Homo sapiens: one gene and its partner. The protein of the gene in region 1 purifies or fractionates together with the protein of each later gene. This does not show direct contact. Each region holds a gene or a part of one and is shown in the gene's direction. Other genes may lie near its edges.

Region 1 (3,746 bases):
CCCCTTGTACTTTCCTTGCAACTTTTTCATCGTTTTTTAAAACAACATTTATTCTCATATTTACTTATTTTCTCAAATGTTTGTTTCCTTTCTTCCTGCTCCATCTCCCTGTTCCTCAGATTCCTTTCCTTAGGAGAAAAAATTGGGGTATTTCCCACAGCATGCTGTGAGAAAAGTCTCTGAACTTCCTGGGGGTGGGACTTGTGAACACAGAGGGTCTTGCACACTATTTTATATCCAGCGAGTGTTCAGATTACAGGGCCAGGCCTCAGATACAGGTCCAGTTTGTGGAAGGCGGTCCCTGAAACATTATGAACACTGCTTTGCTCCTTCTGTCTCCTAGTCCCTCTTCTTAAGCTCAAACGTTATTAATTGGGAGTCTGTTCTGGGCTACTCATTGTACTGATTAAAGTAATTCACATTAATGGGCAATGACTGATCTACTCAATTCTCTTAGGGGAAGTCACATTTCTAAAATGTGCATATTAATCCAAATAAAACCCTGATTCATGAGATAAATGTAAAGCAAATGATTAACACTCTATTCAGGGTTTTCTGTCACAGAACAAAATATTTTCTTTTCTCTTGGGGCCCCAAAACAGCCTTCTCATCCCTTAGAAAGTGGGCTAGGACAATGTAAAATTGGACAGTAGAGTTGTGTGTGTGTACGTGTGTCTCTGTGTGTGTGCAGCACCTGTCACCTCATCTACACATCTCTCTAGCTCATGATATATGTTTCAAATCATGAACCAGAGACATTCATATATGAACATGGTTAAGACATATTCATTCTTTCTTTCTTTCTTTTCTTTTCTTTCTTTTTTTTTTTTTTTGAGACGGTGTCTCGCACTGTCGCCCAGGCTGGAGTGCAATGGCGCGATCTCGACTCACTGCAACCTCCGCCTCCCGGGTTCACACGATTCTCCTGCCTCAGCCTCCTGAGTAGCTGAGGTTAAGACATATTCTTAACGAGTAAGTTCTTTGTCTAGGATAATATTTTGTAATTTTCCACAGAATATTCTTCAGATGCCTAACTTGATGAAGGTTTTCAGGAGCCTAGTCTTAGAATCATAGAGGTTCTTGGCTCCTGGTTCCTTCTTAAATCCAATTGTTCATTACTGGAATATACAAATGAGTAGGGAGCCAGAAATGATAGGCACCAGAAACTGAGGTTTCCATTTCTCAATGTGGCCTGAACTAAATGAATTAAATCTCATCCTCCTATGGGACGTGAAGGAAAAGGGCTCTGGCTGGGAAGTACTGCTGTGCAGTGGTTAGTATAGTGGGTCTGAGGGTCAAATAGATTTGAGTGCAACTCCCAACCCAACTCCTACTACTAGCTTTGGGACCTCGGGTGAGTCACACAGCCCTCAGGTGCTACAGCTTCTATAAATAGTGATATAGTATTCTTACTTAAAGTGTGGCTGATCAGAGCAGCCCTTCCGTGGATCAACCACCCCATCAGAGGATCTATGTCTAGGATTGAGCCTTTTCTGCCCCAGGAGGTTCTTTCAGGTCCAGAGGCTTTCCCGTGGAGGGAAGAGAGGCAGCAATGAAATCAGCGTATAGGCGGACTGGGCTCTTTCCCCTTCATGTCTGCAGGGCAATGACCTCCTAGAGTCCGCTATGCACCCCCCACTTGCCTCTCTGGGCACTGCGAGGTGGAGCAGTTGTAGGACCAGGAAAAGCAAGAACAGAGCGTCCTCTTCGGCTACCCTACCCGGGAGTTCAGGCGCTGCGCCTGGCCCTCTGGGGCGTGTTTGACCATAACTCGCACCGCTTGCTCTTTTCCCATTTCAGCAAAGTCTTGAGCCTGTATTCTAGTACCTTTTATCAGCCTTGGGTAAGCAGCTCGCACGGGGTATATAAGGAGAATCAACTTTCTGAACTGAAAAAAATGTAAATAGTAAAGTCAGTCGTGCTTCTTCCTGCCGGTGACTGTTTACAAGAGGGAAGTCAGCGGGGCCCCCAAGAGGTCGCTGGTGGCGCAGGAACCGCATCCAGATTGTAAAGAACGGGGGAAGGAAAAAAAAAGAAAACACCCAGAAACTTTCTTCCTTGTTGCGAATAATCGCCGCCTCCCCCCCTCCGCCCCCAGCAGAAGCAGTAACGTGACACCCGAGCGAAATCCCGAGACCCGAGCGGAGAGGGAGGGGAGAGGGAGGAGAGTGCTGCGGAGCGCCGGAGGGAGAAAGGGGAGGAGAAGGAGGAAAACCCCTGTCAAGGAGGTGGAGCGAGGGGATGGTGTCCGCCTCCTGTTCCTCCCTGCCGTTTTTTAGAGAAGCCTGAACCGGGACAAAACACGCCGAGACCTACAGACACAAAGCCGGGGGGTCCACGCTGGCGCTGGAGGCGAGCCCCGGCGGCCGCAAGCGAGCCCGAGGCGCGGCGGGGCGCGGGGCGTGGGGACGCTAGCGGGCGCCGGACGGGCGCGGCGCCCCGTCACGGGCAGCGCCCCGAACCGGGGCCGGACACCTCGGCCGCTCGGGCCGCGGCGGCGGGGACCATGCCGAAGAAAGTCTCCTGAGCCCGGCAACTTCGGCCCCTCCCCGCCCCCACCCGGCTGCCCTCCGCGCGGCCCTCCCCATGTGCAGCCGGCCAGCCGGGCTCTCCTCCTCGCGGCGGATGGGTGACCTTTTCCTGGCACGGGCAGGCTGTGGGAGGCAGCGGAGCAGGCGATGAAGAAGAAGCAGCAGCATCCCGGCGGCGGCGCGGATCCCTGGCCCCATGGGGCCCCTATGGGGGGCGCCCCTCCGGGCCTGGGCAGCTGGAAGCGTCGGGTGCCCCTGCTGCCTTTCCTGCGCTTCTCCCTCCGGGACTACGGCTTCTGCATGGCCACCCTGCTGGTCTTCTGCCTGGGCTCCCTCCTCTATCAGCTCAGCGGGGGACCCCCTCGCTTCCTGCTCGACCTGCGGCAGTACTTGGGTAAGGAAGCTGGGCAGGCGCTAGGGCGGCGCCGACAGCGCAAAGTTGTGCGGCGGGGAGAGGGTCGCGGCGGGGACTTCTCGCGCTGCCACCGCGCGCCGCCGCCGCCCCGGGTCTCTCCAGGTGCTAAGCCCGTGAGCATCTGTGCCGCGGTCGGGAGCGCCTTCTTCCTCCCGCGCGTCCGACTGTCCTCACCGAGGCGGGGGCGCCGCTGGGTTGCGCTGCCGGCAGGTACCCCGGGGCGAGGCACCGCTCACCTTCCCCCCGCCCCACCTCCGCCACCCGGATCCGGACTGGGGCGGAGTGGATGGGTGTGTGGGGTGTGCCGGAGTGTGTGTATCTTCAGGCCTGGCGGCGCGGGGAGTGGCGAAGGGAAGGGAAGGTCCTCTTCGTTGCATTGTTAGTGACCGCAGTTCAGTCCCGTCCCGCGCCCCGGGGAGTGTGGGTGGGTTTAGCCCTTTGCCACCGTCCGCTCTGAGAATTCTGTCCCGCAGATCCCCCGCCTGCCCGCCGGCCCTAGTGGCTCCGCGCTGTCCCCGGGCTGGCTTGTCCCTTGGCTGCCGCTGCCCACCCCGCCGCCCGCAGCTAGCCTGGCGCGGGGAACGGGTTGCATCCAGGGGTTTGGGGATGCCCGAGGGCGCTGGTCAGCCTGGCCAGCAGTGTCGCCCCCAGTAACCCGAGGATCCTCGGCGCTGTGTGCGTCTCAAGCTCAAGTCAAAACTTGTGTGTGTGTGTGTGTGTGTGTGTGTGTGTGTGTGTGTGTGTGTGTGTGTGTGGTTTATTAGGAGAGAGGCCGCCTGTCTTTAGCAGAAGTAAGGAAG
Region 2 (3,746 bases), on another chromosome or scaffold:
ATTGATTATGTCTTCCATGGTGAGATTTCAGGCATAAAATTGGTTTGGGTTAGTACAAAGTCTGGCCCAACATATGCTTACTTGTAGTTCTTCCTAATAAGTCAAACAAGCTCACATTTATGGTGCTGAATATATTCTAGATTCATTGTATCTGTAGTTGCTAAAAATTTAGTTCCATGCCTTAGGATGGTATTAGAATGTCCATGATAAGAAAAATAAGTGCAGCAAAATAAAAGAAATGCCACGCCTATCTTTCTGTATTATTTTTTCCACTGGAGAAGGACAGATTTTACTCATTAAAACTACAAAAGTCTGAGACCAACTGCTCCATATTCTTTTGTGTTCGTTAAATGTTGTTATTTGGAGGTGACTTAATTAGACTAAAGCTAGAAGAGAAAACAATAGAATGTCAAAGATGCTTTTCAAGTTGTAAACTAATGTTTTAAGTTATAAACTACTTGATACTATTTTCTTAATTAAAAAGATATTTCTGAATCGAAAAGATCAAAGCTTCTGAGTAAATTTAGAAAGCATTTTTTTGTCATTTACAGAAAAGGGCTTTAAGAGCCTATGTTCCTTTGGCTTTAAGAGCTCTTCACTGTGACTTCAAAGTAATCATTTTCAGATTAATAAACTGGAGCTCGTCTTTGGAATTATCAGTTTTTCTTTTATTACAGAATCTGAGGTTAGCCAGAATCCATCTGCAGAACATGAGGCAGAAGGGAGAAACACCTAACAAGGTGAGGCCTTCCTTAACTATTTTAACACAAGCAATTAACCATTTATACTCACTTAAAAGCAGACAGCTGGGATGATGGTGTCTGCTAAAAAAAAAAAGTGTAATGAAATGTTCTTTAGTTTTTTGATCTTTAGTAAAATTTCATCTTCGTATAAAATTTTATTAACCATTCCACTAACTTGTTACTTCTCCACTCCACCTCCCCACTCCCTTTAGAATCCTTAGTTTGAAGACATAATTCTTTAAATGATCTGTCTCAGGGAGGGGGGATCTTGTTACTTTTAAGGACTGCAAATAGCATTATAAACTTTGTTTTTATTTTTAAATACGAATATCGACTGAAGCTCTCAAATCAATCAATATTGTTGCCAAATTTTGTAAAACGCACTGTCTTAGCTCTCTAACGATAGAGTTCTAATATAAATGTAAAAACCAACCTATCAACATGTTTTCAAAAATACTTTTTGTAAAGAACAGTACAATTTTGTGGTGTCCAAATATTCCTTTCTTTCTTACAAAATATTATTGGATCTGTCCAGTTCATAAATATTCCTGCCCTCTCTTCCTCCCTCCCTGCCTCTCTCTCCCTGCAGTTTTTTTGATGTTTGTTCTTTTCTTTCCATTTTCTAGTTATTAATTGGTTCAATGGATGACCTTTGTGCGACACTGTTATACCTTATCAGCCTCGCCAGGGCCCCCGCGCCGCCCAATCCCAGCAACTCTGGTTCTCCTGTGACCCCAAGCCTTCCAGATCCCTGGGTTTCCCCCCACGGGACTGTCACATTCTTCCCCGCCGGAGACGCCAGTCGCGGGGCCTCCTCCCTGGGGTGTGAGCAGGTCGGCGCGCCACACTTCTCTAGGTGGCCGGACGCGCGCCCAGGGAGGAGCTGGCGGCGGGGCCCAGGCTGTTCCGGCTGCGGCACGCCAGGGGATGTGGTTAGCCCTGAGCCTGGAGGCCGAAGGTGGGCAGGCAACACTCCCACCATGTTTCGGAGGAGAATACACTAGGCTAGCCTAACGACACTCGGAGTGCGAGCTGCGGCTGGGGTAGGGGCACCCCTTTCCAGCGGGCGCGTGGGTCACCAAGGAGCAGTTCTCCGGGACCCGTTGCGTCAGAGGGACTGGGCGGGGCTGGGCGGGGCAGGACGGGGGCGGCGCTCAGGAACCCTGGAACCCGCTGGCCCTGAGGCCACGGACCGAGACGTGGTGCTGAGCCCCTGCGCGGTTTCTGGTGCGTAGAGACTGTAAATCGCTGCGCTTCTCAGTCATCATCATCCCAGCTTTTCCCGGCTCGAATTCAGCCTCCAACTCAAGCTCGCGGGAAAGACTACCTGAGAGGAGAAAAGCTTCTGTCCCTGGACCTTCTTCTGAGGGTGGTGAGGTTTGTTTAGGGTCGCAGAAGCAGGGAGGACTGACTCAGCCCTCACAGAGAAGAGGTCTGGAAAGTCCTGGGGAACTCGCAGGGCACGGGCCGCTGTCGCGGTTGGGAGGCGAGGGCGCAGCGCTGGGGTTGTAGATTCCAAGACCCCTGAGGGTGGCTGTGTTGGTTTCTCGCAGGAGTCGGAGGCTCCCTGCTTTCCAGCCGCCCAGTGACCCAAGCTTAATCTTCAGCACCACTTGGGGCGACCTTTTCGGTGCAAACCTACGATTCTGTTTCTCAGGATTCCTCCCCATCCCGCTTCGCCCCGGAAAAGCTGACAAGAACTTCAGGTGTAAGCCCTGAGTAGTGAGGATCTGCGGTCTCCGTGGAGAGCTGTGCCTGGAAGAGAAGGACGCTGGTGGGGGCTGAGATCAGAGCTGTCTTCTGGCCCAGTTGCCCCCATGCTTCTGTCATGGCTAACAGTTCTAGGGGCTGGAATGGTCGTCCTGCACTTCTTGCAGAAACTCCTGTTCCCTTACTTTTGGGATGACTTCTGGTTCGTGTTGAAGGTGGTGCTCATTATAATTCGGCTGAAGAAGTATGAAAAGAGAGGGGAGCTGGTGACTGTGCTGGATAAATTCTTGAGTCATGCCAAAAGACAACCTCGGAAACCTTTCATCATCTATGAGGGAGACATCTACACCTATCAGGATGTAGACAAAAGGAGCAGCAGAGTGGCCCATGTCTTCCTGAACCATTCCTCTCTGAAAAAGGGGGACACGGTGGCTCTGCTGATGAGCAATGAGCCGGACTTCGTTCACGTGTGGTTCGGCCTCGCCAAGCTGGGCTGCGTGGTGGCCTTTCTCAACACCAACATTCGCTCCAACTCCCTCCTGAATTGCATCCGCGCCTGTGGGCCCAGAGCCCTAGTGGTGGGCGCAGGTAGAGTATGGGGTGTGGTCTGCCTATACAGAATGGCAGCCCACCTGCTTTCATACCCTTTTTTTTTTCTTTAGGATAATTCGTAACTAATATTTTGGGTGAGTGAAGTGTGCATGTTAAGAGTACAAAATAGTTTTATGATTCTATGCTGGTTTAACAACTGTCTCCTCCCTTCAGGCACGTAGTTTCAGAAAACTTTTATGAAATCTCTGCTTCCTACCATTTTGAGACAGGGACAGTTTTACTGCTATTGGTTCCTTCAGTGAGTGCAAGAACACACAGAGAACTTGGTCACTTCTAAATTTTATCAGCTCTGACAAAATGGTGAATAGGAAAGTTATCTGACTTCATTGTGACACGTCTACCTACCTCTAATTGTACTTTATCAGGGATGACTACATTTGCAGAAGAGATATGTTTAAAGGAAGGTACCTGAATTCCTTTCTTCATGTCTGCTCTTATTTTATACTGTCTGCAAGCTAGGACTTGCCTAGCAAGGTTGCGCTCCCACCTGTGAGCCAGAACGTGGGCTCTTGGCAGACTCTAGGAGCCTTTCTGTTTCTTCTTCTTATCCTTCCATGCATCCTTTTCTTTTTTTGACTAAGTTCTACCCTTCCTCCTCCCCCTGCCTTGGAGTTAGGACATCTTAGGCTACACGTATTTTCACTGAACTGTAAAGAAAAGCCTGGGGTTTAGTGGCTAATT

The links. The genes of interacting proteins can lie anywhere in the genome.
Region 2: the proteins of UST (region 1) and SLC27A6 purify together in Homo sapiens (affinity purification with mass spectrometry; 3 studies listed by BioGRID and IntAct, with this or other methods). This does not show direct contact.

The regions. Positions count from the first base shown.
Region 1 is NC_000006.12:148,744,753-148,748,498, forward strand, and holds the start of UST (uronyl 2-sulfotransferase), read left to right. Parts: upstream 1-2,277; 5' UTR 2,278-2,678; coding exon 2,679-2,925; intron 2,926-3,746. UniProt on the Homo sapiens protein: Sulfotransferase that catalyzes the transfer of sulfate to the position 2 of uronyl residues in glycosaminoglycan chains. Has mainly activity toward iduronyl residues in dermatan sulfate, and weaker activity toward glucuronyl residues of chondroitin sulfate.
Region 2 is NC_000005.10:128,963,578-128,967,323, forward strand, and holds the start of SLC27A6 (long-chain fatty acid transport protein 6), read left to right. Parts: upstream 1-1,910; 5' UTR 1,911-2,560; coding exon 2,561-3,041; intron 3,042-3,746. UniProt on the Homo sapiens protein: Mediates the import of long-chain fatty acids (LCFA) into the cell by facilitating their transport at the plasma membrane.